2 linked regions of the Homo sapiens genome follow. The protein of the gene in region 1 interacts with the protein of each later gene in a biochemical or structural test. Each region holds a gene or a part of one and is shown on either strand. Other genes may lie near its edges. The genes, in order: CACNA1B and APBA1.

Region 1 (15,750 bases):
AATCTCGGAATTTTGCTCAGCCCAACCCTAACCCTAACTCCTACCAGCCAATTCAAGGTGATGATTAGATGGAATATTGTTGCCACCTGTAATCTGGTCCAATCCCCTAGTTGTGTAGACAGGGAAACTGAGGTTTTGAGAGGTGACATGGCTTTCCTGAAGTCACTGACAGGCAAGGTTTTGAGGAGATGCTGTAAGGGTCCCCTGGCTTGCTTCACTGTTTTGGTCACATGCTCATATTTAGGGACATATCAGGGAAAGTAAGCGGCCCCTTGCTAAGGGGAAAGAGCCCTTAGGCTGGGCTTGAACATGACCTGGCTTTTGCCCCATGCCACATGGTCAGAGCAGGTCACAGAGGCCACATTGCAGGCCCATTGGAGCTCTTTCCCTTCCCTTTGCCTCCTTTGCAGATGGGTCCTGTGTCCCTGTTCCACCCTCTGAAGGCCACCCTGGAGCAGACACAGCCGGCTGTGCTCCGAGGAGCCCGGGTTTTCCTTCGACAGAAGAGTTCCACCTCCCTCAGCAATGGCGGGGCCATGTGAGTATCCAGATGCAGGACATAGCTGGACAGGAGGAGGTCCAAAGACAGTAAAGGGGGAAGCAGACATCCCATTTCCTCAACCTCCCTGGCCCTCACTTCCACTGGCCTCTGGGTTCACCAGCTTGGAGGCACCTGAGGGGCGTGTCTGCCATCCGACCCTGCACTTGGGCCCTTAGCAACCCTCCAAGGACAGAGAGCCCCTAGGCCACATCTCAGTTCTCAGGGGCTGGCTTTGCTACAGATGCTTGTTGTACTTGCTGCCTGAGAGCAGTCAAGGGCTCTTCCTTTGCTGGGTTTCTGTGGCAGACTTTAAAATCGTTTCCTGTGACATTAGACAGGTGCTTCATCGAACCCGCCTTCCTAACAGCACTTAGACCACCACGTCCCATTCCCAACACACGCACCTGCTTCCCTTTCAGACAAGAGGCCCCTGCCCCTGCTCCTCATCGGCCCTCCGTGCCAGCAGACGCTGAGATTCCACCTCCATCTCCCACCCCTTTCTGTCAATGGCCTTCTACTGCTCTGATCTTTCTAACCCCGTAAGGCACTTTTCCTCTCAGATCTCCACTTTGGTACTGATTTCTGAAGCTGTTATATTTTGTAAAGAAATTGGTAAGGTTCTTTTGTATCACTTAACTCTTGCCACAATATTTCCGGGTAACAAATCACCCAGAAGCAGGTGACTTACAAGAACCATCACTTTTTCCCACTGTGGCCCAGAAAAGTGTGCTCCCAAATCTCAGGACCCAGATCCTGGGGGCTGACTCCCGAGCCGCTGGCAGCCCCCCATTCCCACACTGCTTTCAGCATGCTGTTGAAAACCTTCCTTGCATTTAAAGTCCTGATTCTGACTGTATGTGCAGGTGGGAGGAGATAGTGAGGTGTCTGGGGTTTATCTAAGCCAGGCTTTCAGCAGGAAATTGAGCTTCTGTTATTTCTGTGATGGTAGTTTCTACCTAAATCAATTACAACTCCAAGTCAGAGAGCACCCACTCAGACTGGGTCTGGTGAGGGTATTTATTGAGCCATTTAGTGAGCGGGTTGAGCACACCTCTGGCCTTGGACGTGGTGTTATTTCAGGGTTAGCGGTGCATTAGGAGCCAGCTCCGGTTCTCCTAACCACCCCTCCTCTCAGCACCAGCCTGCCACTGCGGCCGCTCTGTGCCTGGTGCCAGCAGGGGCTGCAGTGCCCCAGACAGCATGGAAGGAGAGCTGCTTGCAACTCTCAGAAGACAAAGGATGGGGCTTCTCAGAAGCCCCAGCAACCACCAGTGTGTCCTTCTGCCATCTCTGCGTCCACTGCTGTGGTCAGGGTGTGGTCCATTTAGACTATCAGGCTCCAGTCTGAGCTCAGAGTGATCAGTGCCACTCAACCTGCATGACTAAGAACGTAGTCTTCAGTGTTTCACTGAATGTGAGAATGAGCACTCACCCGAACACATTCCACGCCAGTTGGGAGATAAGTGATGAGAAATACCAGTGCGGAAGTATCTCCGGGTGGGGCTGTTGGGGCAGGCGTATGGGGAGCATGTGTGGGGTGGCCTCCGCCAGAAGGCTGCACCCCAGCAGAGAGCCGAGGGATGGAAGGGCTCATTGTGGCTTGGGGGGGGGGTCAGAGAAGTAAGGAGGAGCCACCAGCAAGGGACCCCTGAGGGAGGAAGCCCCTAGAGGAGGAAGCCCAAAGAGTCCCGGGCGAGGCCCCCTACCCCCCGTCCCAGCCCGTCCCCTCCATGACAGCTTTGCCCTCATCTGTCCCAGCCTGTCCTCTCCATGACAGCTTCTCTTGCTGTCTGCTGGCATAGGCAGGACTTCTTCAGCTACTGTCCTAATGCAGGCTGTACACATGCGGCCCCACTCCTTCCCAGGATAGTCCTGTGTGGCAAGGACAACCCCTGCTCCCACTTCACAGATCAGCCTCTTGTCCAGAGGAGCGGGTGACGGACCCAGGCCCCCCTCAGACTTGAGCACTGTGGGCTGTAAGCTGGTGCTCTGCATCCTCTCTGCCACTCTGAATCCCTTCTTGCTCTGACCCTGTTTTGGATCCATGTCCTTTGATGAGGCTTTGCCTGGGTCCAGCGTGCACAGGCCACGTTGGGGCTCTTGTGCCCAAAGGAGGGCTCAATTCAGTCCAGAACAGGGTGGCCAAACCCCCTGACCTCTGCTGCATGTGTTGGAGACGCCTGGCAGGTTGAAGCACCAGGCTATTGGTAAGGCACCTGCAGTCTCTGACCCTACAGGAATCTGTTTGTCTTCTCTGCCACAGACAAAACCAAGAGAGTGGCATCAAAGAGTCTGTCTCCTGGGGCACTCAAAGGACCCAGGATGCACCCCATGAGGCCAGGCCACCCCTGGAGCGTGGCCACTCCACAGAGATCCCTGTGGGGCGGTCAGGAGCACTGGTGAGCACTCCCGGGGGCTAGTGAGACTGGGTTGGGGGATGTGTGAACAGGGATGGGGGATGTTTGAGACTGGGGTGGGGGACGTGTGAACAGGGATGGGGGATTTTGAGACTGGGGTGGGGAACATGTGAGACTTGGGTGGGGGACGTGTGAGACTGGGGTGGGGGATGTGTGAGACCAGGGTGGGGGACGTGTGAGACTGGGGTGGGGGATGTGTGAACAGGGATGGGGGGTGTGTGAGACTGGGATGGGGGATTTTGAGACTGGGGTGGGGGACGTGTGAGACTGGGGTGGGGAACATGTGAGACTAGGGTGGGGGACATGTGAGACTTGGGTGGGGGATGTGTGAGACCAGGGTGGGGGACGTGTGAGACTGGGGTGGGGGATATGTGAACAGGGATGGGGGGTGTGTGAGACTGGGGTGGGGGACGTGTGAACAGCAGTGGGAGTTAGGTGAGACTGAGATGGATTTGGGTGAGACCCCAGTGCCTCATGGAGTGAGTCCGGGGTGGGATCAGATGAGTCCGCGGTGCCTTGTGTGGTGGGACTAGGTGAGTGCTGTATCCACAGGCTGTGGACGTTCAGATGCAGAGCATAACCCGGAGGGGCCCTGATGGGGAGCCCCAGCCTGGGCTGGAGAGCCAGGGTCGAGCGGCCTCCATGCCCCGCCTTGCGGCCGAGACTCAGGTAGGTGGTCTGGGAGGGTCCAGGCCCTGGGCTGGGCAAGTGGGGGGTGGGGAAGTGGGGCTGTGGCTCTGGGCCTCCTGCAGGTGAGGAGAGCTGGGGTAGAGAGGCTGGGGTCCATGTGTGGAGCTCTTTGCTGAGGCAGGAGCAGGCACCCCGGGCAGTCCTGTCTGGGCGCCGACAGAGGTGCAGCCTGGACGCCTTCAGCCCCTGAGGCTTCTCCAGAGGGTGGGTCAGGTCCGGTAGAGGACAGCTGTGCCTGTTCTCAGCCTCCTATTAGGGGCCATGGGGCATAGGGGCCCCCACTCTGGCTCAGCCACGTTCTGTTCCTCCTTTCCGGGGCTCTACTCCCTGAGACAACCCCCACTCTCATCCAGAAAATTTCACCGACACCTCAGTCCCCTCTCCCGCCCGTGGTTCTGCGGAGGACCCTCCCTGCTCATGGGCAGTCCCTGGACTACTTTTCTACCCAGCTCCTTGCTGGGCTCGCCTCTTTCTGGGACATGCACACTGGATTCAGGAAGAGGAAGCTCTGGCCCCATGTGTTTCCCGGGGGAGGCTCCTTCCACAAGGACACTGGGAGGATCGCCCCTCCGAGGCCAATCTGGGAACACTGTGCCCCGGCCTCCGAGGCCTCGGAGGAGCTGCAGGGCCTCACCTGCAACATGAGCCTGCTTCAGTTGGCCAAAAGTGACCGGAGCCCCCGTGCCAGCCCTGTCCCTCGGCCGACCTGGGCTGTGGAGCTGTGGATCTGAACCTCGTCCGTGGCTCGTCTCCCATCCCACTGCTGTGGCCAGCAAACCCTTTTCCTCTCCTCACTGCCTCTCCTCCCTCTTAGGGTTTTCTCCTCTTCCCACCTGTCCTTCCTCTCTTGTCTCTTTCCCCGCCCAGTGGTACCCTCCTGGGTGCTGCCTGGTGGGTGGGTGCAGGCTGAGCCTCCCTGCAGCCTGTGCTGGGGCCTCCTCCTTCACACACGTGATGCATTGGCGGCTGTGGGTGAGTTTACCTGGGAGGGCCTACCCGTCCCAGGTGTCTTCACGGGTCCTGATTCTGGCCGTGGAAGCAGCTCGGGAGCCAGTCCACCCCAGACGCACCAGGCAGAGTGATCCCATTGCAGCCAGCAGAGGCGTCTCTGGTTTCCACTCAGGGTTCTTCCAACCAAGCCAGCCACCTCTCTCTTCCTGGCACGACACATGGGATGGGGCGGGGACTCAGGCACTGTCTGCCCCCAGCCTGCCCTCCTGGGCTACCATTTCAGGCCTGGGTCCTTCTGACTGTGAGACCAGGATGGGGGGCGTGTGGGCCTGCTGTCTGGCCTGCTCCACCACCCACTTCCATGCCTGCATTCCCGCTGACCCTGGTGCCTCCCCTAGGCCCACTCTCAGTCCTTTGCCCACAGCCCGTCACAGATGCCAGCCCCATGAAGCGCTCCATCTCCACGCTGGCCCAGCGGCCCCGTGGGACTCATCTTTGCAGCACCACCCCGGACCGCCCACCCCCTAGCCAGGCGTCGTCGCACCACCACCACCACCGCTGCCACCGCCGCAGGGACAGGAAGCAGAGGTCCCTGGAGAAGGGGCCCAGCCTGTCTGCCGATATGGATGGCGGTGCGTGCGGAGGGGCCCGGGGAGTCCTTCGGGGAGCTATGGCCCGAGTCAGGGGGTCCAAGCGGCCCATGGGGGACCCTCTTCCTTTGTGGGCCTCGTGACCCCATAACCAGCCAGAGCAGGGTGGGACTGAGGCCCAGGCCCTAACCCTCACCCTAGCCTCCCCTGGCACCACCTGAATTCTGTCCTGCTGGGCCCGGGGGTCAGGGGTCCCTGCCTTGGGCCTGGCCGTGCTAACTTCTTCTCTTCCCTGGCCAGCACCAAGCAGTGCTGTGGGGCCGGGGCTGCCCCCGGGAGAGGGGCCTACAGGCTGCCGGCGGGAACGAGAGCGCCGGCAGGAGCGGGGCCGGTCCCAGGAGCGGAGGCAGCCCTCATCCTCCTCCTCGGAGAAGCAGCGCTTCTACTCCTGCGACCGCTTTGGGGGCCGTGAGCCCCCGAAGCCCAAGCCCTCCCTCAGCAGCCACCCAACGTCGCCAACAGCTGGCCAGGAGCCGGGACCCCACCCACAGGTAAGAGGAATAGGTGGAGAGGTCAGGGCCCAGCTGCCTCTCCTCGGCCCAGCACCCCTGTCCCACAGGCTCCTGCCTCTCCCCAGGGCCTCGCTGCTGCCCTTTGTCATTCCCAGCAACCCAAGGGCCGGGCGCTCCCCTCTGTGCCCTGTCCCGGAGCCCACGTCTGCAGCCTACCCCAGCTGTGTTCTCATCAAGCTCCTGCCTGGGTCACCCTGGGACAGTGGTTCTGCGTCCTATCCACTTTCGGACCTGGGCCCCCAAATACTTACCTCTCTCTCGGTCACTTAACTCTCCTTCCCTGACTGTGGTCGTTGGGCTTTTGTTCTGTCCTTTTCCCTGGCCCCAGCCTGTCCCTTCCCATCACCTGCTCTCCCCAACCCCATTCCTGGGCCTGACCCTGACCATCGCCCTCCCCCGCACACAGGTGCCTGTTGCCTCCCTGGTCACCGCAGCCCGTTGTCCCCCATTGCCTCCCTCTCTCCTCCCATCCCCCCAGGCACCTGTGTGTGATGTGCTCTGTCTGTTGGTTCGGCTTTTTTTTTTTTTTTTTTACCTCTGATTTGTTCTGGTCCATTTTCATGTAGGGCAGTGGTTCCGTGAATGGGAGCCCCTTGCTGTCAACATCTGGTGCTAGCACCCCCGGCCGCGGTGGGCGGAGGCAGCTCCCCCAGACGCCCCTGACTCCCCGCCCCAGCATCACCTACAAGACGGCCAACTCCTCACCCATCCACTTCGCCGGGGCTCAGACCAGCCTCCCTGCCTTCTCCCCAGGCCGGCTCAGCCGTGGGCTTTCCGAACACAACGCCCTGCTGCAGAGAGACCCCCTCAGCCAGCCCCTGGCCCCTGGCTCTCGAATTGGCTCTGACCCTTACCTGGGGCAGCGTCTGGACAGTGAGGCCTCTGTCCACGCCCTGCCTGAGGACACTCTCACTTTCGAGGAGGCTGTGGCCACCAACTCGGGCCGCTCCTCCAGGACTTCCTACGTGTCCTCCCTGACCTCCCAGTCTCACCCTCTCCGCCGCGTGCCCAACGGTTACCACTGCACCCTGGGACTCAGCTCGGGTGGCCGAGCACGGCACAGCTACCACCACCCTGACCAAGACCACTGGTGCTAGCTGCACCGTGACCGCTCAGACGCCTGCATGCAGCAGGCGTGTGTTCCAGTGGATGAGTTTTATCATCCACACGGGGCAGCCGGCCCTCGGGGGAGGCCTTGCCCACCTTGGTGAGGCTCCTGTGGCCCCTCCCTCCCCCTCCTCCCCTCTTTTACTCTAGACGACGAATAAAGCCCTGTTAGAGGATGCGGCTCTCTCTGTCCCCTTCCTGTCCTGCCTTCCTGGGTCTCGTACCACACACCAGACCCTAAACCGCAGGCTGCTGTGTGTGGCTGAGAAGGACCCAGGAGTCCAAATCCCGTGTCCTGGGACTCAGCATCCAGCATGGGTGCTTGGAGCCGTTGTGAGGAGCTCTGCGTCCTGTGGGGAGCACCCTTCACGTGGCCGTGCGGCACAGAGAAGCAGGGCCCACCTGAAAGTGCGCCGAGACCTCGGGACGGAGGGGATGGGGAGGGGGACACAGTCGTGGCTTGTGCAGCCCGCCAGTGTCAGCGAATGCTCACTCAGGCAAGCTCTGTCCTCCCTGGACACCGTCAGCCCCACAGGAACCGAGCTGGGAAGTGTTCTTGCTGTGGTTGTGATTTTTAATTGCAACACCTCTCATTCTTGTCACTTCTATATACGTGATGTAGAAAAAATGGAAAACCAGAAAAATGGGGAAGGAAATGTTCACATAACTTTAAAAAATCAAACCTGTGAAAGAAAGATGTCAGCTTTTTGCCACGTGTCTTTGTGGCTTATGCGAGGAGACTCCCTGTGCAGCCCTGTCCGGTCCAGGTGGACGTAGACGGCCCCTGGCTCTGCTGCTCTTGACCAAGTGCCTGACCGCCAGGCCCTCACACCCAGGCTCCTGGGCACTGTGGTGTGAGGCGAGGCCTCGGGATCCATCACCGCAGGATGCTGTGAAAAGTACTCGCGATGGCAGCCAGGTAGCAAGCCCTTGCCAGTGGAGAGCACTGGATGTCATGGTGGCAAACAAGGCAGCCATTTGCTGTCCTCCTCCCACGAGTGGAAGGGGTTTCCAAGGAAGCCACAGGGCAGCTGACCACGTGCTTGTGTGAGGCATTTTCAGTCTGTTCTGCATATGATTCTCAGGGCACACTCTGTGGTATGTGAAATAGGTTTCCTTCCACATACAGCAGAAGAGAGGCAAAGGCTGGTAGGAAGGAGGAAGACATTGGCTGGGGGCTTGGATGTGGGGCCGTCAGGGCAGGAGGGAGGAAGCCCCAGCTGGAATGAAACTCAGAGCAAGTGACCGAGGGAGGACACGGCTCCTGCCACTGAGGCCGGGCACCTGATGCCCAGCACTGTCCTGGCGCCAGACACAGGGAGCAGGCAGTCAAGTGAGGTCTGACCCCCATGGCCACGCTCAGGAGAGAAAGACCATGCTCAGGACACTGTCCAAGGTGCACAAGATGCTGGGAGGTCCCTTGTTTGGTGAAGAAAGGGAGCATTTAGAGCAGTTGATGGTGGTGTGTCCTCCGTGTTCTGAAATTCCAGATGATCTGTGTTGGATTCTTGGCTTCTACCCCATGATTCTCCTCAAAGAAATTGTGTGTGATGTGTGTGTGTGTGTGTGTGTGTGTGTGTCTGTGTCACAGGAGATGCAGTGCCTGTACAGGTGTGTTCAGTGTGTGGATGTCATTAACCCATAGGGCTATGCAACAAAAGACACATTTAATAGAAGTAAAACACACAAGACCGCTGCCTGGTCTCGGGGTTCAGCATGATTGTGACCAAACCTTTTTATAGAATTTCCTTACCTGAAGGCACAACACTCTGAAACTTTAAAGATAACAGAGTATTTTATTCCAATAGAATAAACCAGGAATCTCGGACTGTGCATGTGATCACTGTGCTCCTGTTGCAAAGTAGAAGGATGTGTATTTTGACACTGACGTTTTGTCTCTTGTTCCCCAGCCCCCAGCCCATGTTATCTTGGGTGTCGAATGTGTCCATTCCATGCAGAACCACAGCCATTTCCCCAGGCAGTGTTGGGTCGAGAATCCACTTTTCTAAACCCACACAGCCTAGCTGGCTTGTCTAGACTCTTCTAGGCATTGGAATTGATGAAAACTACAGGGAGCGGGGAAAGGAGACATTATGTCTTGTTTTCCTGACTTTGGGTTTTGTTTCTCACTGTGTCTTCTCCGGCTATCATATATGTCCCCTGAATCTCATAGTGAGCTGCCAAATTTGAAGTGCATCACCCAGTTGTCTGCATCTGGAACCAGTCAAGCAGTGGCTGTAGTTTGAACAAGTTATGTGTGCATGTAACATATATACATATATACATATATACAAGTATGTGCATGATAATGTATATCTTCGTACTTTTTGATACAATGTATTCATTTGTTAATTTTTAATTATATTTGATATAAATCAAAGGTTTGTTGCAAAACTTTATATTTAAGAAGTGTTAAAAAAAAAAAAAAGTCCCAACCATGCAACACAACTGGGACCTACTTAAAAAGAAATTCTGTGATTGACTAGTTTGCTGCCTGAGTCATATTTATCAGCCAAACTTTGGATTCTGCTGTTGTTTCTACAATGACATTTTGTATGAAGCAAAGTCCTTGAATTAAAATAAAAACTTAGCAAAAAATCAAAAACAAAACCCCACCATGCTGCCATTGGTATATGCAAGGGTGTGGGCCTGGGGTGCACTGCTAGGAGGGGTCAGAAGAAAGTGAGAACTGCAGTTTGTTGTTGTTGTTGTTGTTTTGTTGTTGTTGTTGTTTTTTGACAGAGTCTTGCTCTTGTTGCCCAGGCTGGAGTGCAGTGAGGCAATCTTGGCTCACTGCAACCTCTGCCTCCCGGGTTCAAGGGATTCTCCTGCCTCAGCCTCCAGAGTAGCTGGGATTACAGGCGTACACCACCATGCCCATCTAATTTTTGTATTTTTAGTAGTGACAGGGTTTCACCATGTTGGCCAGGCTGGTCTCAAACTCCTGACCTCAAGTGATCCGCCCACCTCAGCCTCCCAAAGTGCTGGGATTACAGGCGTGAGCCACCATGCCTGGCCTGCAGTTTGTTTTCAATGCAAGTGTGGGATCAGGTTTTGAGAGTGTGGTGAGGATCAAGGGAGGCACTTGGCAGGAGGAGGCAGATTCAACTTCCCTGGGGATCAGGGTTAGGGTTGGTTAAGATTACAGTGGTGGGTTAGGGTTGGGGTTGGGTAGAGGAGGTTCTGGGAGGCTGTGTGAGTTTGGGGCACAGAGCTCCTCTTAAGATGCCCCAATAATCATTCGCTCTGCTGTTAAAATGTTAGGATATTGCTAGCTACATGCTGATAAGGACAAAGGGGACATCCTTAAGAGAAACCTGGCACCATAAGTACAGATTAGGGCAGAGAAGGACATTCGAAAGAGATAGGCAGGCACAGTAGGTACAGACATGACCACTGTAGGACCTTCCTGGAGTGGCAGGAAGGAGCCCAGCCCCAGCAGTGGAATCACACTGATCACTGCACATATGTGTCAGCCAACAGTGAGGGGGTCCCACAAGCCTGGGTGGGGCAAGTCAGGGATCTAAGGAAGGAGCAGGAAAACCAGACAAAGAAAAGAGGTGGAGACTTGAGGAATGTGAAGAAGTCCAACATAAAACTCCCTGCTCAGGACCCTGGGGCTGTGTTCCTGCAGATCAGCCCCACTTCTCCCTTGAGGCATACTTATTTTTTCTACAATAAGCTCTTTACACTATATTTCTTTTCAATGAAGTTATCTGCCATCTTTGTACTGCCTCTTGGTGAGAATCTTTCTTTCAAGTTAGACAAGAACTGGGACATCAGGTCTCCCCAGTATTAGCTCCATTTCAGTTTGAATTTGCAGAATTGATAGTGCTGAACAACCTGCACTCCAACTTTAAGTGGTGTAGGAAGAGGCCAGCAGGGTCAGACCCTGAAAACAGACCAGCCACGTCTCCCAGGTGGACGCAGCGGGTTCTCCACGAGCGTGACTTGGGGATTTACGGCACTGAGACCGTGCTACCCACCCCCCCTTAAAAATCCCTCGTGGCTCCCAGTTGCCCTGAAGGGGAATCCCAAACTCTTCAGAGGCAGCACATGCTGGTGGGTGAGAGTTGGGAGCCTGAGTCCAAGTTCCAGCCTGGCTGCTATCGGCTGTGTGACCACTGGCAACTCGCCTAACCTCTCTGGGCCTCACGGGCTCGTTGGAGGATGTGGTGAGAGAATGACCGAGATGAGCTTAGCACAGTGCTGGCCACACTGTCGCTGTTCAATGCCAGGTGGCTGTGGCAGCAACAGGGCCCTGCAGTGTCTCCAGCCGCCAGCAGGGTGCGTGCCGCCACTACACTGGGAGCAAGAGGGCCCTGCAGTGCCCTGGCCGCCAGCAGGGGGCACGAGGCCATGACACCGTGAGCAAGAGGGCCCTGCAGTGCCCCCGGCCGCCAGCAGGGGGCGCAAGGCCATGACACCGTGAGCAAGAGGGCCCTGCAGTGCCCCCGGCCGCCAGCAGGGGGCGCAAGGCCATGACACCGTGAGCAAGAGGGCCCTGCAGTGCCCCCGGCCGCCAGCAGGGGGCTCAAGGCCATGACACCGTGAGCAAGAGGGCCCTCCAGTGCCCCCGGCCGCCAGCAGGGGGCGCAAGGCCATGACACCGTGAGCAAGAGGGCCCTGCAGTGCCCCCGGCCGCCAGCAGGGGGCGCAAGGCCATGACACCGTGAGCAAGAGGGCCCTGCAGTGCCCCGGCCGCCAGCAGGGGGCGCAAGGCCATGACACCGTGAGCAAGAGGGCCCTGCAGTGCCCCGGCCGCCAGCAGGGGGCGCAAGGCCATGACACCGTGAGCAAGAGGGCACTGCAGTGCCCCGGCCGCCAGCAGGGGGCGCAAGGCCATGACACCGTGAGCAAGAGGGCCCTGCAGTGCCCCCGGCCGCCAGCAGGGGGCGCAAGGCCATGACACCGTGAGCAAGAGGGCCCTGCAGTGCCCCGGCCGCCAGCAGGGGGCGCAAGGCCATGACACCGTGAGCAAGAGGGCCCTGCAGTGCCCCCGGCCGCCAGCAGGGCGTCCACACCGGGCCGAAGCGAGGGTGAAGCCCGCGTCCTCCTCGGCACAGACCCGGGGGGCACCGCCTCGCTTTGGGACAACTCGAGGCCATGGTGAGTAAAATCCTTCCTGTTTGCAGCCCTGACTACTGAGGGTTAGAGACCAGTAAGAGGGGTCGGTGTGGGAAACTGGAAACCAAAAGCCCCTCTGAATCCTGAGCACTGAGGTTCTCCCCACCCAAGGCGAGGCGGGCGCAGTGCGAGGTCTACACCGCGGCCTTGGAACACAAATGGAGCGTTCCTAATGCAGATATGCCTCCCGAAATACGAATGTGACACTCGCAGTGCTCAGGTAACAAACACCTGTAATGCTAATGCGCTGCCTCAATACAAAAATGTTAATATGAAACCCCGTGCTCCCCACACGGCCCCGCAGTCCCCGCTCATAATAATCAACACTGACATAATCAACACAAACGTAGCCTCCAGCTGCTCACAGCTGCTGCTGAGCTGGAGCTGCCTCGGGCTTGGCCTCCACAGTGGAGCTTGTTGTCGTATCTGCTTCACGGACGTGGAATTGACACAGTTGTTTTAAAAAGTAGCTTACTTCCCAATAATTCCATACTTTCAGGAAACTTGCAGCGGTAGTGTGGAGTTTTCTTTCTCTTTTCTCTCAGATTCCTCAGCGGTTGTTGCTGAGCCAGATCTGCATCTCACAGAAAACACCCCAGTGTTTTTCACCCAAAACAGGGACCCCTCCCAGGTAAGCGCCAGGTGACCCCAGCACAGGAGGCCACGTTTCTACCTGAGGGTCGTGTCCGCAGGCCCGTTTCACTTCACAGCCATCACGGCTGGGTGGAAAATGTCTCTTTCCATCTGGGTCCAGTTTTCCTTTTCTGGAGCCTTCGCAGAGTTGAAGAGCAGAGCTGCCCCCAGCCTGGGTCTGCACAGCGGTTCCCCCTGGGCAGATGCAGACGCCGCACTCCAGGTGGGAACTCGCAGCCTCTGGCAGTGCTCTGCACAGCGAGTTCCCCGGAGGAGCACAGACCCACCCACACCCCACAGAGACCTCAGGGTGATTGCGACAAAACTCTCCTTTACAAACAAGTCTCATCCCATCACTCTTCTTATTTAACTTTAACGATGGTTTCCCACTGGCATCAGAACAGGGGTCGCAGAACTGACCTGGCCCCCAGTCCCTGAGCGCTCCCACCTGCTGCCCTCTCCCGCCCAGCCCAGCCCAGCTGCCTGCGTTGCGGCCTCCACCTGCAGGGACACAGCAGGCTCTCGGGAGTCTTGGGAACTCTATGCACATCCAACACCCTCTTATCAAATACTCTTAAGATTCTGTCTACCTAGATCCTTCAAGTCACAGCGGTTATGATGTCTAACAACACAAATGTTCTGACGTGATTTTTTTAGACCAAAAAAAAAATGTTTGGTAGATCATATGTGAGAATCACCCTTAATTTATAAATCAAGGAAATAGATACATAAAAGCAGAGTCCATATTTGGGATAATCAGTAAAGAAAAATAAAATCTCAATGCAGAATGAAAGGCAGAGGGCACCATTGATCATTGAAATTTCATAAGAGTTTACTGGACAGAATATTACCTTACTATATTCTCCAGCCCTGTGTGTGTGTATGTGTGTGTATATCACACATATACCAGTTGCAAAAAATTTCAGGTTTAAACACTCATGTTTGCTTTTTTTTTTTTTTTTTTTTTTTTGAGATGGAGTCTGGCTCTGTCGCCCAGGCTGGAGTGCAGTGGTGTGATCTCAGCTCACTGCCACCTCCACCTCCCGGGTTCAAGTGATTCTCCTGCCTCAGCCTACTGAGTAGTTGGGATTACAGGCGCCTGCCACCATGCCCGGCTAATGTTTGTATTTTTAGTAGAGACTGGGTTTCACCATGTTGGCCAGCTGGTCTTGAACTCCTGACCTCTGGTGATCTGCCTGCCTCAGTTTCCCAAAGTGCTGAGATTAGAGATGTAAGCCATCTCGACTGGCCTACTCATGTTTACTTCATTAGTCAATACGGTTGATTAAGAAGTTAGGGTTAGGGTTGGGGTTAGGGTTAGGGTTAGGGTTAGGGTTAGTTTTAGGGGTTAGGGTTAGGGTTAGCTTTAGGGGTTAGTGTTGGGGTTTAGGGTTAGGGTTCGGGTTTGGGTTTGTGTAGTGTTAGGGCTAGGGTTTGGGTTAGGAGAATTGCTTGAACCTGGGAGGTGGTGGTTGCAGTGAGCTGAGAGTGTGCCACTGCTCTCCAGCCCAGGCGACAATGGGAGATTCCGTCTCAAAAAAAAAAAAAGGATAGTAATACCTACTTTTAACAGTCATGAGCAACATTTTTTTTTAATGTGGGTCACTTCTTTATTTTTCTGATTGCTAGAGCCATGTCTCAAATGCAAACATCCTCGTGCTTACTTCATGCAGCTTCAGACTCGCTCTGCAGACGAGCTGATGACCACCTTCTACAAGTGCTGCAATTCTCAGGGTGGACACTGCTGTAGGGATTAGGACTAGGATGGCCCAGCTGCTTCAGTGTGTGCTTACCTTGTCCCTTGGGGTAGATGCTTAGCTGGCAGTGTGAATCGTGTATCCTGAGGGTCTTTGCTGGTGTGGTGGAAAGACAAACCTTTTGAGGTGAAGAGCCAGGGTGTCAGGAAATGTGGCCTATCTGCTAGTCAGAGTGGATGAAGTCATGAATGTTGGGGAGTTTTTCTGTATGGGTAGGAGACGGAGACCCATAACTAAGTATGTGCTGTTTAAAGTCCTGTTCCTTCATCTTCTACATTTATTGGCAGTTGACATTCCCTTACTCCCAATCAATACTATTTTTTTTTATTTTGAGACAGAGTCTCACTCTGTCGCCCAGGCTGGAGCGCAGTGGTGCGATCTCTGCTCACTGCAAGCTCCACCTCATGGGTTCACGCCATTCTCCTGCCTCAGCCTCCTGAGTAGCTGTGACTACAGGCGCCCGCCACCACTTCTGGCTAATTTTTTTTGTATTTTTAGTAGAGACAGCGTTTCACTGTGTTAGCCAAGATGGTCTCAATCTGACCTCGTGATCCACCCGTCTCAGCCTCCCAAAGTGCTGGGATTACAGGCGTGAGCCACCGCATTCAGCCTCAATCAACACTCTTAAATGTTTGTACTGTTTGCAAAACTGAGTACATTAAATGTCTCTAAATATTTAACTGTTGCTTGTAAACTTAATTTAGTATTTATTTTAATCAAAATTCTGAATATTTCGTTAAAATGAAAGTTCTAATATTGCCTTCTCAGTGTTTTAAATAGCTTATTAAGTAGAAAGCAAACCCCAAATCACAGTGATCCCAAAATTGACTACATACTTAGATTTGAACAGGCTATGAAAATCCTCATCACTGGTATTTCAATTTATTTCTTTACTCCTATTCTTATTCCCTTATTCATTTTTTGAACCTTCCCTGATTGCTTCCTAGGGTTGCATTAAACGTATAAGATTCTATTTTTTTTTTTTTTGAGACACAGTCTCGCTCTGCCGCCCAGGTTGGAGTGCAGTGGCATGATCTCGGCTCACTGCAACCTCTGCCTCCCGGGTTCAAGTGATTCTCTTGCCTCAGCCTCCCAAGCAGCTGGGACTACAGGCGCATGCCACCATGCCCAGCTAATTTTTTGTCTTTTTAGTAGAAACAGGGTTTCACCATGTTAGCCAGGCTGGTCTCAAATCACCTGACTTTAGATGATCCACCTGCCTTGGCCTCCCAAAGTGCTGGGATTACAGGCATGAGCCACCGCGCCCGGCACTATGTTTTTATACTTTATACTTTCTGTGTTAATCATTCAACTCTCAGAAGAGAAAGGACACCTCAGACTAGCTGAGTCTAGGTTCTTGATAAT
Region 2 (16,412 bases), about 68 Mb from region 1:
GTTTTGTTTTGTTGTTATTGTGTTTGTTTGTTTCGGAAGACTTAGGGGTAAGAGATATTTGAAAATTGACCTCTGGGGCCAAAAGGAATTAACTGTAGTACCTTGGGGAGATAGGACTTTTATCCTAGAAAGAAGAAGTAATTGTTGCTAAAATTGAGAGAATTTCAAGCCGTAAAATCTGAAGTTAACTCTCTGGGTTACAATAATTAATTTGCAAACATTTGTTAATTGCCTCCCGCATCTCAGATCCACTGTACCTTTGGATAGGGGACAGGGAATGTTGAGAAGGGTTGGAGGTTCAAAGAATGCTAAGTCTTAGATCCTGGCCAGAGGTGGATCATGATCTAGAAGGAGAAAAGAGGAAATATGTTACTAACTGTAAAAATAGTGAAAAATGATTAAGTGCTGAAAAAGCAGTATTCCTGCAGAGCTGTGGGAGTTCACAGGGTACAAAGTGACTTCTGATGGAAGAATTAGGGAAGGTTACATGGGATATAGCATTTGAGCTGTGATTAAGGTGGCATTTGGGTTGGCAGAGAAGGAAGGGCATGCTTGGGGGAGGAACAGTGTAGCACAGGCCTGGCAGTGGAAGGTGTATGCCTACACAGGAAACAAAAAAATGGTGTGCTTTGGCTGAAGCGCTAGGAATGCCAAGAGATGTAATGAGGGATAAAGCAAGAAAGAGAGGTTTGTTCAAGGTGGTGGAGCAACTTGTACGCCAAGCTAAGGAGTGTGGATTTTGTTCAGTAAGGACTGGGGAACTATAGAAGATTTGTGAGGAGAAAGATTGACAGTATCAGAACTGTGCTTTGGGGCAATACTTTTGTAGTATTATGTTGGATGGAATGACATGGGAAAAGGCTGGCAGGAGGGAGACCAGATAGACTCTATTGTCAAAGTAGGGGAAAGATGGAAAGAGGCAGTGGGAGGCAAGAAGGGAACACACCTAAGAGGTGGTGTGCGGGAATTATCTGAGGAGCTTGAACAGTCACTGGAAAGTGAGGAAGGGAAAAGGGAGGCCAAAAGATCATTGTCAGGCTTAGCTGAGAGAGCAGTTGGGTCATTTTCAGAAAGAAGATATAACAGAGGATAAGGAAGAGGAGAGAAGTTTCTTTTTGAGCATGACAGGCTTGTCCAAGTTAAGGGACTAGAATACAGAGGGAGGTTAGAGCTACCAGGAGATTTGTAGGTCATCTGCTTAGGAGCGATTTTCATATCCCAGGAATCACTGATAAAGAAAATGAAGAAAGAAGAAGCAAAAGTAAGGATAGGATCCTTGAGGGATGTCTGTATGTTGGAGGGGAAAGAGAAAGAAGAGGACAGGAACCACGTTAAACAAGGGGCAATTGGAGAAAAATGATGGAAGTGAAGTGGTACAGTGTCATGGAAGCTGGAAGGGGTGAGGAGAGCCCCTGTCACTCACACAGCACACCCCATGGGTGACGGTGCAACCAAGGCAAAGCCATTGGATTTGACTCTTGGATTTCCTTGATTGTCTTTGTGGTAGGTGGAAGTGGCAGCCAGGGGCAAGGGTTGAAGGGAGGCGTGGGGGAAGGGAAATGGAAAGCAGTGAAAACAGACTTCATTTTCAATAAGTTGGGAGATAAAAGAGAAGGAGAGAGAGTATGATATATCACAACAATGGTGTAGTAGAGGGAAAGTGGTATTTTTAGTATAGGAAGACTTGAGCCTGCTTTATAAGCTGAGGAGAACAATCCATTGAGGGAAAAAGAGATTGAAAATGTAAGGGAGAGGCTCAATTGAGGGAATTAAGTCTTCAAGAAGATGGGAGGATACTAGATGAAAGCAAAGGAAGGATTCTTTTGAGACAGAAGCATAGGAATTTTGAGGTGGAAAGAAAGGAATTTGGCCACAGTCTTTTAAGTGAGGTCAAAGAGAGGTGGGCAGGTTGAAGCCAGGAGTAGAATGACAAAGACTTGTGGGCATTGTGGAAACAGAGCAGTGAGTCAATTAGGAGTGAATAAAAGATCATTACCCAACCATGAGGACCTCATGTGTTTGAAAAGCAGGAATTTGTAGTGAAACCAATTAACGCTATATAATTGGAGTTTGACAACTACTTAAGTAATTTTTGTATAGTGAGCATTTAATCTCACTAAATACAGTGGTTCTTCATTCCCTTAAATGCAGTAAAAAGAGGAGAATGTTTACCTTTAAAATTATCCAAATAAAAGACTCCACTTGTATTTCCTGTAAATATTCTCTCTCAGAGATCTGAGCTAAATTTTAAGAAGTTTATAGTAAAACAATGGGGAAAAATGTAAGTGTTTTTTTAAAGGATGAGCTTTTTCTATCTGTAATGGTAGAATATGGTTTTACAGTGACGTACATGTAAAGTCAGTTTTCAAAAGAAAAATCAAATATAGCACCTCGCCCAATACCATACCCATCATATGCATTCAATATACATTTGTCACATGAATACATGAATAAACTTTTTTTAAGTAAGCTAGCAACAGTATCTAAAATTTTAAATTTCAGGATTTCATTCTTACACAATGGACATCGAATGAGTTGCCTTTTATGGCCTGTGCAAGTTTATGATAGCATTAAAACTATTTATTCATACCTGATATATACATTGAAGCTTTATTTTTAAAAACCCCACATTTTTCACAAAATGATTGTGAACCCTTTAGATCCTTGAGTTATGGGATTATGTCATGATTCCAGGTGAGTTTATGGAACTTCAACTGTAATGAGTGGTGATTTTGAGGTTTTAATGATGAAATTTATTCATTCCTTCAACATACACTCATTGAACACTTTCTCTGGGCCAGAAACTATTCTAGGTGCAAGGAATATGGGGTGGGGGGAGGCATGTCCTTAATATCACAGAACTTTTAGTGGAAGGAGATTAAAAATAAATAAATAAGTAATTACATAATATGCCAGGTGGTAAGTGCTATGACGAAGAATAAAAGAGAGAGAGCAATGGACTGATGATAGTGGGTGGGTGGGGGGTGACATTAGTTTATATAGTATGGTCAGGGAAGACCTTAAGCAGAAAGAGCTGAAAGATGTGAAGTAGTGAGCCCTGCAGATATTTGGGGGAAGGGTCTTCTAGGCAGAGAGGATATCAAAAATGAAAAGGCTGGATAAGAACATGTTTGGCATCCTCAAGGGACAGCAGGGAAACCTTATTGGTTTCCTTGGTTTACCTGGAGCAGTCACTTAGGGAATTCACAATAAAATGCTTTGCCTTTCATTTTCAATTGTTTGCCCATAAGGCTGTATTACCATCTACTGTATTTGGGCTGACCTATGAATCAGTACTGGGTTTATATAAAGATGAATATCCTCAATCAAATGTATTTAAGTTAGAAAACAATCATGCCTGTAATCCCAGCACTTTGGGAGGCTGAGGCAGGCAGATCACTTGAGGTCAGGAGTTCGAGAGCAGCCTGGCCAACATGGCGAAATGCTGTCTCTACTAAAAATACAAGAATTAGCCGGGCATGGTGGCGCATGCTTGTAGTCCCAGCTATTTGGGAGGCTGAGGCAGGAGAATTGCTTGAACCTGGGAGGCAGAGGTTGCAGTGAGCCGAGATCACATCAGAAAACAAAGCGTGATTCTGTCTGGGTAGTGATGAAATACTAGTCAGCTGGAAGTAGTTCTGCTCCTTGGAACTTACATCTCTTCTGTGTCCTGAATCTTCTTTAAATATTGCTCTCTTTTCTTCTTCCTTGTTTCATGTTCCATTCTCAAGTATAAGATCCTTGAGGCTAGAACTTTGTTTTGTTCATCTGGGTATACTCTATAACACAGACTGACTCTCTGCATTAGTAAGGGTTTATCAAATACTTACGGAGAGGAATTGATGAGAAATTTCCAAAGATTTAAGTAACTCAGGTGTAAAGAATGAGGGTAAAGCTCGTTTACCTTGATTTCTGCAGATAGGTAGCTGTTTTTCAAACAGGACACAGAATTGCCATAGGATGCTAAAGCAGTTTATGCATGCAGACCCTGAGATGAGGACTTGAGTTCAGAATAGTTTATCTGAGAGACAACCTCAAGAAGCACAAGTGAGAGAATGGAGAAAATGACACAGGAGAGGGAAGAAAGCCCATTAAGAGGTGAGTTAATGAGCAGGTTACCACGGTGGGCAGCTGAGGCTTGGCTCTGCTGGCATTATATAGACTGCACATTAGGATTGTCCACCAAGCAGTGGAGAAAGTGGGGTCTTTATCCACCATTTCCCTAGGGATATTAAATCTTCAGTACTTTAGGGCTGCTAAGATTAGCCTGAGCAAGCTCCAGAGACACCAAAGAAAGCTCTTGAGCAGAGAAGCAGAGAGGCAGAGCCAGGTGGAAGTGGGAAACTGTCAGTGTATTTGGAGACTGTCGATACAGCTATAGCTGAACTCAGAAGTGGACATGGGACCCCTGTTTAACACAGCACAGAGGTATCATAAAGAATTTTTAACAGATAATAATTGGTTTGATGGCAGTTATTTTAATTTAGGGATTTTAATGTATTGTGACAACTGCCTGCAGTTCTGTTCACTCACAAGCCAACTATTGGCCACCCTCAGTTATCTGAGGTGCAGAGTACTATATATGCTCATGTGTAAGATACGCTCTGTTATAGGGTGGCCCTCAGTTTTCCAACAAGAGCGTTTATAAAAAGACTTTATGTCAACTTGAATATGCATATTCTAGGAATATAGGCAAAGAGTGAAGTATCTACTTATGTTTAATTTATTAGTTTACTTTCATATAATTGAAGTCACATTATATAAAATTATTAATTTAGAAATATGACATCCTTCCATTCTCACATTTTATGAAATCATTTATTCAAATACTTCACATACTTTTTTGACTTTAGAGTCTTTGTCATGATTAGGCCACTTTTGTCATGTTCATTTCTATCTAACTTTTTTGAGATATAGTACTTCTTGAGTTTCTGTATGATGCTACCACCACAAACTTTATTCCAAACCCTGTGTGCTCATTCACTTAATGTAAGAACGTTTGTTTTATCCTTTCTTCCTAAAGGAGTATATTTATGATCTCTGCAACCCAGCACTTCTGTATGTCTTGTGTAAAGACATCCAAGACAAGCAATTGTAAAGCTCCTTCCCAGGAATATTTACTTCAATTGGTGTTAAAATCATGGCCTCCTTTACTCTGTATTCATTCAGTCATTTATCTTCTTTCAATTGCATAGCCTTCAGAAGTATCCCTATCTTGTGTTGATTGAGTTTATTTCCGGCTATCTTCTCCAAATAGTTCTTAAGTAACCTCTGAAACACACAACTCCTTTTCATGAAATCTGCAGTCTTACCAGGTAATATGTTTTTTCATGGTTTCTCTCTTTAAAATCAGTTGCCGTCACATCCAGCATTAGTGAATTACATGGCTTTCAATTTCTGTTATCTTGGAGGTAACAGGGTTTTTGGCATTCAGAAGAAGGTAATTAAGAGAATACCCCACAATATGGGAGACTTTGTAAGCATTTATACATAAGGCAACTTTCTCTTTTCTGAAATACACATTTTGGAGGACAGAATCTCATCTTTTTGTATATGTAAAGTGATCACAGGAGGTTGTCAAGGTATGGTGGCAAAACCAATCCCTACACACTAAGTTTCCTTTTCAGCCTCCTCTTCTGTTCCATGTGGATTAATTAGCATACAATTTGTATGAAAAATACAGCAAATACAGCAATGATTTATTTCCTAATGGAATTAATTGGCCACCATTCCAAATAATGTAATCGTTATGTTTCTGACTATTGATAAATTTTGTATCTCGAGATCAATTCTGCATTTATTAACAGGCACACTTTATTTTAAAGAAGGATAATTGCCAAAGTATGTATAAATTCCTTTTTCTTGTAAATTGTAGCATATTTTAAAAGCAGAGGACGAGCTTAGAGTCATTTAAGGAAATTCCACTTAACAAGAATAATTACCCCCTACATTGGCTATTCAGTGAATTTGGACTTTTATACTGGACTTTACTAAAGTGGGTTGCATTCTGTTGCAGTGGCTTTTACACACTTTTGGCCATGATTCCTGGTGAGAACACAATTTAGATGATAGGCTAGCAACATAGATGAATGTGTGTAAACACATATACACACACACATACATCACTGAAACAAGTTTCACTCAACAATACTTGTCCTTTATTATGTGTAATCCACCCTGATGCTTCCTATCCTATTCTCTTCTGTTCTGTATGTTTGCCAACCCACTGAAGTAATCTCTGCATTGGTGAACCCTAATATGCAGTTTAGAAAACACTGCTGTATTGTATTACATTTATCAGAAGAGTGTTTATTTTCTTATAGTATGAAATAATTTCATGTCAAAAGTTGTTTTTTCGTTTTTTGAATTGTTAGCATATTTGGATATTTGGTGGTATGGACAAATGATGCAGTAATCACAGAGAGAAACTTTATTTTTGAGTAGACATTTTGTTTCCAAAAGAAGAAATTACATTAGTGTGGAAAAGGGAAAGTGGAGTAAGAAGAATAGATTTGTTCTTAGATCTGTGGCTTTCTTGGGTTGTGGGGACCGTGTCAAGTCACTGGGCCACAACCTCCTTGCTGAGCTGGTTCCTCACGATTCTTTCCTGTCCTTCACTCTTCCTGCCCCTCTTCCTAGCTGCTGTCTCTTAGCCTCTAGAGTTCTGGATGTTTAGTTAAATTACTTAATTCTAAATTTTAACCTAATATTATTTCTTCCCAGATGTGAAAATAGTTTCTACGCCCACTTCCCTTCCAAATAACTTGAAAATATAAGAATCATTTTTCCCTGAGCTAGTACCTGGAAGAGTTCTCTCCTAAAGGAGCTAGAATTTGTTCTACAGATGAAATGTTTCCATAGTATTAGGTCATATGAAAGCTTAACCTAATCTTATGTTCAGGTATGATTGTGTTCTTTATGGCAGGCTAGCTATCAAAGTACACATAAATTCCTTTTTTAAAAGCTCAGCAGATTCCCCATCCAGTGACTAAAAACAAGTTACAAAGTGTCAGGCATTGCGCTAAGTACTGTACACAGCTAACTCATTTACTTCTCATAATGACCTAATTTACTCTTCATAACCACATCAGGAGAGAACTTATATTGCAGATTGGACTTTGAGGTTCTCAGAGGTTCCTCAGTGGCTACAAAACAGGACAAAGGGGATTTGCCTCAGGTCTAGGCACAGGAATGGGCCCAGACAGTTGCTGGTCCTGGAGTCTATTCTGTCCTCTGGGCCCAGCAGTAGCTTCCCATCCCCACTGCCCCATCTTGACTCTCTTGTTTATGATGCCTTCATCCTACTTGGGATGTCTGTGTGTGTGTGTGTGTGTGTGTGTGTGTGTGTGTTACTGTTTGTCTTAGTCCATTCAGTGTTGCTATAACAGAGTACCTGAGGCTGGGTAACTTACAAAGAAAAGAAGTTTATTTGGCTCACAATTCTGGTGGCTGGAGAGTTTAAGACCAGGCAGCTGCATCTGGTAAGGGTCTCATGCTGCTTCCACTCATAGTGGAAAGTGGAAAGACAGCGAGTGTGTGCGAAGAGATAACATGGTGAAAGAGGAAAGGAGAGAAAAACCAAGGAAGCCAGATTCTTTTTAACAATCCACTGTCTAGGAAACTATTCCATCCTTGCAAGAGTGAGAACTCATTCATCACTGCAGGAGGACATTCATCTGTTCATAAGAGATTCACCCCCCATGACCCATGCACCTCCCAATACTGCCACATTGGGGATTAAATGTCAACATGAATTTTGTGGGGATGAACCACATTCAGACCATAGTACTGTTGCACCGACATCTCTCCATTCTTGGCCCTGTGGGGTGGCAAGGACTCAGAATGAGCTGGAATACAGTGCTGCCATAATTAGCCATCAACAGTGAACAAGTCTCCAGGTTGGTCTGAGCCTCAGCTTCTCCAGCTACAAAAGGGGAAATGATGAAACCTGCCCTTCCCATCTCTTCCTGCACAGGGCCGCTGGGGTCAAATAAAATATGAAAGGGTACAGAAAAGTAAGGTAGATGTCTCACTTCCTTCATCATGACATTGAACGAAAGTGACTCCCTACCTAGTTCTAATAGCTAGTGTCTCTTTCCTCTAAACCAGAAGTTGACAAACTTTCTCTGTTTAGGGCTAGTAGTAAATAGGTTTTGTGGGCCATATGGTCTCTGCCACAACTCCTCCACTCTGCCCTTGTAGTGCAAAAGCAACTGTACACAATATGTAAACCTATTAGTGTGACTGTATTTCAACCAAAGTTTGTTTATGGATGCTAAAATTCAAATTTCATATCATTTTTGCTTCACAAAATGTTGATTTCTCATTTAACTTTTTGCAACCATCTAAAAACATAAAAAACATTCTCAGCTCCAAGGCAGTACACAAACAGGCAGTGGGATGGATTTGTCCCACGGACCTCAGTTTACTGACCCCTGATCTAAACTCTCACAGTGCTTTGTACCACTCTGGATTCCAGCAGCTCATGCTCATCTTTTCCATCTCTCTTGTCCTTTCAAAATATGCACCCACCCACACACTCATTTTTTCATCTCCCTTAACACTGAGAAAGATAATAGCATATGTATAGTATGCCCCCCACATGTATATTCTATATGCCCAAGAAATATTTATTGAGTAAATCAGGATTAAAAATCTGTTGCTTTTGTATGTTTCCTGTTTTTTCATCTTTAAAGGAAATTCCACCTATTCTCTAGTAAAGCTTTGGGAATGATTGAGTTAAGATTTTGTGATTAAATATAAGGCTTTGAGATTCTTGCCTTAAAGTATTTCCCCCCTCTGTTATTAACCATAAAAGGAAAAGAATGTCAGGGAGGACAGAGAGGAAAAGCAAACAGACAAACAAAACCAACATTTCAGCATGAAAAGCGCTTGTTAGATGATAACTAAAGTGGCCAGATGTTTAGCTTTGCTCCCTTGGGTATCCTGCCACTATAGGGAACTCTGAACCGGCTGAAGTGTTTCATGCCTCAGCTGCCAGCAGCCCTTGGTGATATGCTTTCCCCAAAATTTAACATGGGGGCCAGAACTCCATGCATTTGACTATAAATAAAGAGGACCTCATAGAATGTACTTTATCTTTGTATTTCCCTACCATGTATTGAGGAATCATGCACATCTCTCTAAGAGCAAAGCCTTGAACATACCTCCTGTTTTTCTTCTTAATAAGTATAGACTTGGAAGTGGAATTATTATAACATATGTAAATTGACATTTCTTCTCAAAATGGACAGAAACTGTATGCTGGAATTATGGCAGGGCTGTTTGTGGTATTCCACATAGTCTATGATCAATATGTTACTCTATAATAAGGATTGTGTGTAAGTGTGTGCACGTGGGTATGTAGTTAAGGGGTGGGAAGAAATAAATATATTAAAAGCTTGGGACCAAAATCACTAACAGTATCTACTCCTTATTAAAATTTGTTAAGGAAAGGAACAATTAAGTCAGCTTTCTGTTGAGTGCTTAAGTATTTTAGCCTGCCAAAATATATTAATTTTCCATAACCTGGAAGAGAGATCCATGACACATGTAAAATAAATTATAAAGTATACTTTGACTTGACATAAATTGTTACTGCTATGGTAGATGATGTCTAGTCCTAAAGACAGAATTTTAAGCCAGTGTTAAAAGTGCATATCATTATACATTTAAGTCATGTGAGGTATTTGAAACCTGCTTGGGGAAGAGTGGAGGATGAGAGGCTCAGGATTTTGTTTGCTATTATGTCTAAGCTGCTCCCTGTGAAACACAACATGGTACTTACTGGCAGTGCAAAGACTGTTTTCAAAATTACCTTTAGTGGATGGATGCAGAGGCGATGGGGTGATGTGGAGAGGGCAGGCTTAGAGAGGACTGCATGGTGATGTGATGGGTAGGCAATTATCAACCCGTCTGCAGCTTCTCATGTGGAATGTGGCTCCCCTTGATGAAGTAGAGAGAATGTGCATATGAAAGTGGATGATTCAGGTGTCATTTATTATGATATCTGTACAGTGAATCTTTTACTCTTTCTGAGTTTAATTTTTCCCTCTCCTATCACATCTCCTGCTTCTCCCACTTGGGGAATTACAGTGTTTACATCTTTTTGTTTATGTTGATCACTCCCTTCCCTGCTGGAGGTTTTTAGCACAGTCTGCTTATCGTTGATTGTCTTTTCATATGTAGGACTGTGACACTGAAGCTGGCCAGAAGGTCTGTATAAGTTGGTGTGCTTTGCAGATGTCTTAGGTCAGAATCCTCAGAAGCAGACACCAAGAAGAGGGTTTGTGTGTATATGTGCTGCTCTATTAAGGAGATGCTCCTAGGAAAAACTGGGAAGGGAAGGGGAAGAAGTCAAGTAAGGGTATGCTCTCATTCAAACAAAATACTGCAAAGAGGGGCTTCAGCCTGATCCTGTGTGGGGTGGGGGAGCTCTGGAGTGTAAGTCAGCCTCAGAGTTGTCCCTGCCTGAATCTATGGGGTTGGTGTTTCATACTCCATACCTGTCAGTCTTCAGTTAAGAGAGGGGGTCTGTTGGGTGGGGACATAAATTCTCAGGTATTTCTGGCTCTTGACATGAAAGGGTGAAGCAAGTGCAGCCCTCCCAAAAAGAGCCATAGGTGCTGGCTGTTGGGTGGGAAAGCACATTGAAAGTAGGGACTTGAGGACAGGTGCAGTGGCTCATGCCTGTAATCCTAGCATTTTAGGAGGCCAAGGCAGGTGGATCACCTGAGGTCAGGAGTTTGAGACCAACTTGGCCAACATGGTGAAACCCTGTCTTAACTGAAAAAAAAAAAAAATTAGCTGGGCATGGTGGTGCACGCCTGTAATCCCAGCTACTCAGGAGGCTGAGGTAGGAGAATTGCTTGAACCCAGGAGGTGGAGGTTGCAGTGAGCCAAGATCGTGGCAGCCTGGGTGACAAAGCAAGTCTCTGTCTCAAAAAGGAAAGAAAGAAAGAAAGAGAGAGGGAAAGAGAGAAAGAAAGAGAGAAAGAGAGACAGAGAAACACAGAAAGAAAGAAAGAAAGAAAGAAAGAAAGAAAGAAAGAAAGAAAGAAAGAAAGAGAGAGAGAGAAAGAGAGAGAGAAAGAAAGAAAGAAAGAAAGAAAGAAAGAAAGAAAGAAAGAAAGAAAGAAAGAAAGAAAGAGAGAAAGGACTTGAGTAGGACAACATTGTCCATCAGCAGGCCTCTCTACAGGGTAACCAAGGGAGCTATTAGGTTGTTCCACTGGGAATCTCCACATTCCAGTCTTTTTCCTGAGAAGTAGCTGCTGGCTCCTAGTGATACATGTGTGTGGTGTGGAGCAGAGGGCTGGGGATCCTGCTGTTCTGGATCAGTGAACCTCCTGTTTCCAGAGCCTTCTCCACCCCATCCTTTGGTAGGCCTGCATCCCTGGGGTTCTACAGTTCAGTCATCTCAAAGAAAAATGTGTTGTAATCTTTTGTTTGTGAATATTCTCTCTTCCATTCTCTGTGGATTTATACCTGATGTATACCTTTATACTCTTTAAGAGGAAAAGAAGAGGAAAAGATTAAAAATATATAATTGATGGTATTAAGGTGGTAAATTTGTCACGTTAAACCAGGAGTCACCCAAAATAAAAGCTAGAGTAGAATCTAAAGTAAAGCTAAAGTAGTAAAATGTTTAAATATATATGTATACACACATATGCATATATATGTAAGTATATTCCTATAACTTCATAAAAAATAGGCTTAATAGTTGGTAATTAGCCAATCTAAGTATTATCTAGCAAAGTGCTATGTTAGTCAGAATGAATAGTTACAGTCTGTTGTAATCATTAGTTGGATAATGTCAGCCAGTGGCTAATGTTGATCTCATTGGGCTAAGCAGGGGGACTTCTGTCTTTCACAATGTTTTTGGATATTAACACTAGACACAGGTCAATAAACTGCTGATGTCAGTGTGAACCATGGTTCCCATGTCATCACATCAGAGTTAATCTTTGGAACTGAATAGTAAACAGAAACCTAAGTAATAACTGGCAGGCTCAGAAAACACTATTTGTTGTTCAAGGAATCTCAAGCAAAATCCACTGCCTTCTATATATAACACATTTATTGAATGGGCTGGACTCAATGGGATGCAAATAGCCATCATCTCTTGTTCTTCTCTTACAGCTTCTTTCTACCCACTTAACAGACTTGTCTTCTCTTCCCCATGGGAATAAAATTTTAGGCAGGTCTCTTAGATCTCCCGGTTAGGCCGGGCGCGGTGGCTCACGCCTGTAATCCCAGCACCTTGGGAGGCCGAGGCGGGTGGATCATGAGGTCAGGAGATCGAGACCATCCTGGCTAACACGGTGAAACCCCGTCTCTACTAAAAATACAAAAAATTAGCCGGGCGCGGTGGCGGGCGCCTGTAGTCCCAGCTACTCGGGAGGCTGAGGCAGGAGAATGGCGTGAACCCGGGAAGCGGAGCTTGCAGTGAGCCAAGACAGCGCCACTGCAGTCCGCAGTCCGGCCTGGGCGACAGAGCGAGACTCCGTCTCAAAAAAAAAAAAAAAAAGATCTCCCGGTTATTCTTAAGTGGTGAAAAGTTTGACTACTAGTCACATAATACATCCAATGTGATAATAAATAACTCAAATTCTCATCTAATATTTGATGTTTTTAAATTGCGATGTAACTTGAATAGTGAAGAAACAGAAATATCAAGCGTAGAGCTTGCTAAATTTTCACATATCTGAAAAACTATATAACTAGCACTTGAATCAAGACATAGAACATTTTCTGGCCCCTGGGAGGCTCCCTCATATGCCTTCTCAGTCAGTCAATATCAACCACTTTCAGAAAGGTAACCACTACTCTGACCTCTGTCACCATAGAGCAGTTTTGCCTGTTCTTAACTTCATCTGCGTGGAATCATATAGTATGTAGCCTTTTGCATCTGACTTCTTGTTTAATATTGTAGAGATTAATTCATGATTCATTCCTTTTTTGCTGTTTAATCCATTGTGTGAATATACTGAGTTTATCAATTCTTTTGTTGAAGGACATTAGGGTTGTTTTACTGTGAATATTATTATATGTTTATTTTGGTTTACATATACACTGATTTCTGTAGGGTATATACTCAGGAATGGAATTGTGGGGTCATAGAACAGGTATACATTTAGCTTTAGAGATATTGCCGGTTTTCCAAAGTGGGGACTACTTTGTCCAATTTATACTCCCAACAGCAGTTTATGAGAATCGTAGTTGGTTCCACGTTGGTGATAGCACCTGGTTTCCTACCATTTGTTTAGCTTGAGGTATTCTGCTAAGTGTGTAGTAGTGTTAAAGTTGTGTTATTTTTATTAATGTTGTTAAAATTGACACATAAAAATTGTACATGTATGGGATACAGTGTGAGGCTTTAATACATGTGCACATTGTATAATCATCAAATCAGAGTAGTTAGCATGTCAGTCACTGAAACTTTTATGATTTCTTTGTGGCGATAACTTTCAAGATCCTCTTTTCTACTTATCTTAAAATATATAATACCTTGCTATTAGCTGTAATCACCCTGCTAATGTAACAGAACTTATTCCTCCTATCTAACTGTAATTTTGTTCTAGCTTAGTTCTTTTTCTCAAGATCGCTTTGGTTACTTGGAGTCTTTTGTGGTTCCATATGAATTTTAGGATTGTTTTTCTATTTCTGTGAAGAATGCCATGGGTGTTTCTATAGGGATTGTGTTGGATCTGTAGATACAGTCATTTTAATGATATTAATTCTTCCAATTTATGAACATGAGATATCTTTTCATTCATTTGTGTCTTCTATTTCTTTCATCAGTGTTTTATAGTTTTCATTGTAGAGATCTTTTACATCCTTGCTAAAATTTAGACCTAGGTAATTTATTATTTTGTAGCTATTGTAAATGGATTTGCTTTCTTGATTTTTTTTCGAATAGTTTGTTATTGGTATATAGAAATGCTACTAATTTTCCATGTTGATTTTGTATACTACAACTTTCCTGAATTTACTTACTCATTCTAATAGTTTTTGGGGAGATCTTTGAGAATATACATATATATATACACACATACATATGTGTATATATGTGTATATATATTCATATCTGCCAGTAGGGGCAATATGACTTCTTCCTTCCCAATGTGGATGCCCTTTATTTCTTTGACTAATTGCTCTAGCTAGGACTTCCAGCATGATGTTGAATAAGAGTGGTGAAAATGGACTTTCTTATATTTTTCCAGATCTTAGAGGAGAAGCTTTAAACATTTTCCCATTCAGCATGATGTTAGCTGTGGGTTTGTCATACGTGGCCTTTGTCATGTTGTGTTGAAATATATTCCTTCTGTACCTAATTTGTTGAGCATTTTTATCATCAAGGATGTTACATTTTATCAAACACTTCTTCTGTATCTATTAAAATGATCATACGGTTTTTACCCTTGATTCTGTTAATGTGACGTATCATGTTAATTGATTTGCCTATATTGAACCATCCTTTCACCCCTGGGATGAATCCCACTTGATCATGATGAATGAACTTTTTAATGTGTTTTTGGATTTGGTTTACTAGTGTTCGGTTGAAGATTATTGCATCTATATTCATTAGGAATATTGGCCTGTAGTTTTCTTTTTGGTCGTTGTATCCTTGTGTGGTTTTAGTATTAAGGTAATACTGGCCTTGTAGAATGATTTTGGAAGTATTCCCTTCTCTTCAATGTTTTGGAATAGTTTTTGAAGAATCGGTATTAGTTCTTCTTTAAATGTTATGTAGAATTTAGTGGTGGAGCCATCAGTTCCTGGGCTTTTCCTTGATGGGGGACATTTTATTACTGCTTCAATCTCATTACTTATTATTGGTCTATTCAGGTTTTCTATTCTTTTCTTTTCTTTCTTTGCTTTCTTTTGAGACAGGGTCTTGCTCTGTCACCAAGGCTGGAGTGCTCCTAACTGGAGTATTCCTGGAGTGATCCTAGCTCCCTGAAACTTTGAACTCCTGGTCTCAAGCGATCCTCCCACCTCAGCCTCCCAAAGTGTCGGGATTACAGGAATGAGCCACCGCACCTGATCTTCTCTCTCTTTTTCTTAGTAAGTCTAGCTAAGGATTTGTTTATTTCTGCTCAGATATTTGTTATTTCTTTTCTTGTACTAATTTTGGGTTTAGTTCCTATTTTTCTAGTTCCTTGAGGTGGCTTGCTTATTTGAGATCTTTCTACTTTTTTGATATAGACATTTATTACTATAAACTTCCCTCTTTTTTTTTTTTTTTTTTTTTGAGATGGAGTTTCGCTCTCGTTGCCGAGGCTGGAGTGCAATGGTGTGATCTCGGCTCACCGCAACTGCCTCCCAGATTCCAGCATTTCTCCTGCCTCAGCTTCCCATGTAGCCAGGATTACAGGCATGCAGGCATGCGCCCGGCTACACGGGAGATGCCTGGCTTTTACTAGAGACAGGGTTTCTCCATGTTCGTCAGGCTGGTCTCAAACTCCTCACCTCAAGTGATCCACCTGCCTCGGCCTCCCAAAGTGCTGGGATTACAGGTGTGAGCCACCACACCTGGTCTAAACTTCCCTCTTAGAACTGCTTTTGCTGTATCCCGTAGGTTTTGGTATGTTCTATTTCCATTTTCATTTGTCTCAAGGAATTTTTAAGTTTCTATTTACGTTTCTTCATTGACTCATTTATTATTCAGTAGCATGTTGTTTAATTTCCATGATTTTGCATACTTTCCAAAGTTCCTTCTGTTATTGATTTCTAGTTTTGTTCCATTGTGATCAGAAAAGATTATTGATATGACTGATTTTTTAAATTTAAGATTTGTTTTGTGACTTAACATGTGGTCTATCCTGGAAAATACTTCATGTGGTGTTGAGGAAAATGTGTATTCTGTAGCTGTTGGATGGAACGTTCTGTAAATGTTTGTTAGGTCCATTTGGCCTAGAGTGCAGCTTAACTCTGATGTTTCTCTGTTGATTTACTGTCTGGATGATCTGTTCACTGCTGAAAGTGGGGGTGTTGAACTCTTCTGCTATTATTGTATTGTAGTCAACCTCTCCCTTTAGGTCTATGAATATTTGCTTTATATATTTGGGTGCCCTGGTGTTGAGTGCATATATATTTAGAATTGTTATATCCTCTTGCTGTACTGGCCACTTTATCATTATATAATGGCCTTTTTTTTGTCTTTAAGCCATTCTTAACTTTAAAATAATCTACTTTCTCTAACATAGGTATAACTACTCCTGCTCTTTTTTAGTTTCCATTTGCATGGAATATATTTTTCCATTCCTTCACTTTCAGTCTATGCATGTCTTTATAGGTGAAGTGAGTTTCTTGTAGCCAACACAGAGTCTTGTTTTTTTGTTTTTTTTTTGCTTGTTTTTGTTTTCCTGAGTTGGAGTCTCACTCTGTCACCCAGGCTGGAGTGT

Evidence for each region.
Region 2: the proteins of CACNA1B (region 1) and APBA1 form a complex in vitro, tested with the Homo sapiens proteins (one study listed by IntAct).

The regions. Positions count from the first base shown.
Region 1 is NC_000009.12:138,115,142-138,130,891, forward strand, and holds the end of CACNA1B (voltage-dependent N-type calcium channel subunit alpha-1B), read left to right. Parts: intron 1-410; coding exon 411-538; intron 539-2,804; coding exon 2,805-2,940; intron 2,941-3,510; coding exon 3,511-3,627; intron 3,628-5,023; coding exon 5,024-5,231; intron 5,232-5,489; coding exon 5,490-5,740; intron 5,741-6,327; coding exon 6,328-6,858; 3' UTR 6,859-9,478; downstream 9,479-15,750. UniProt on the Homo sapiens protein: Voltage-sensitive calcium channels (VSCC) mediate the entry of calcium ions into excitable cells and are also involved in a variety of calcium-dependent processes, including muscle contraction, hormone or neurotransmitter release, gene expression, cell motility, cell division and cell death.
Region 2 is NC_000009.12:69,652,960-69,669,371, reverse strand, and holds part of APBA1 (amyloid-beta A4 precursor protein-binding family A member 1), read left to right. Parts: intron 1-16,412. UniProt on the Homo sapiens protein: Putative function in synaptic vesicle exocytosis by binding to Munc18-1, an essential component of the synaptic vesicle exocytotic machinery. May modulate processing of the amyloid-beta precursor protein (APP) and hence formation of APP-beta.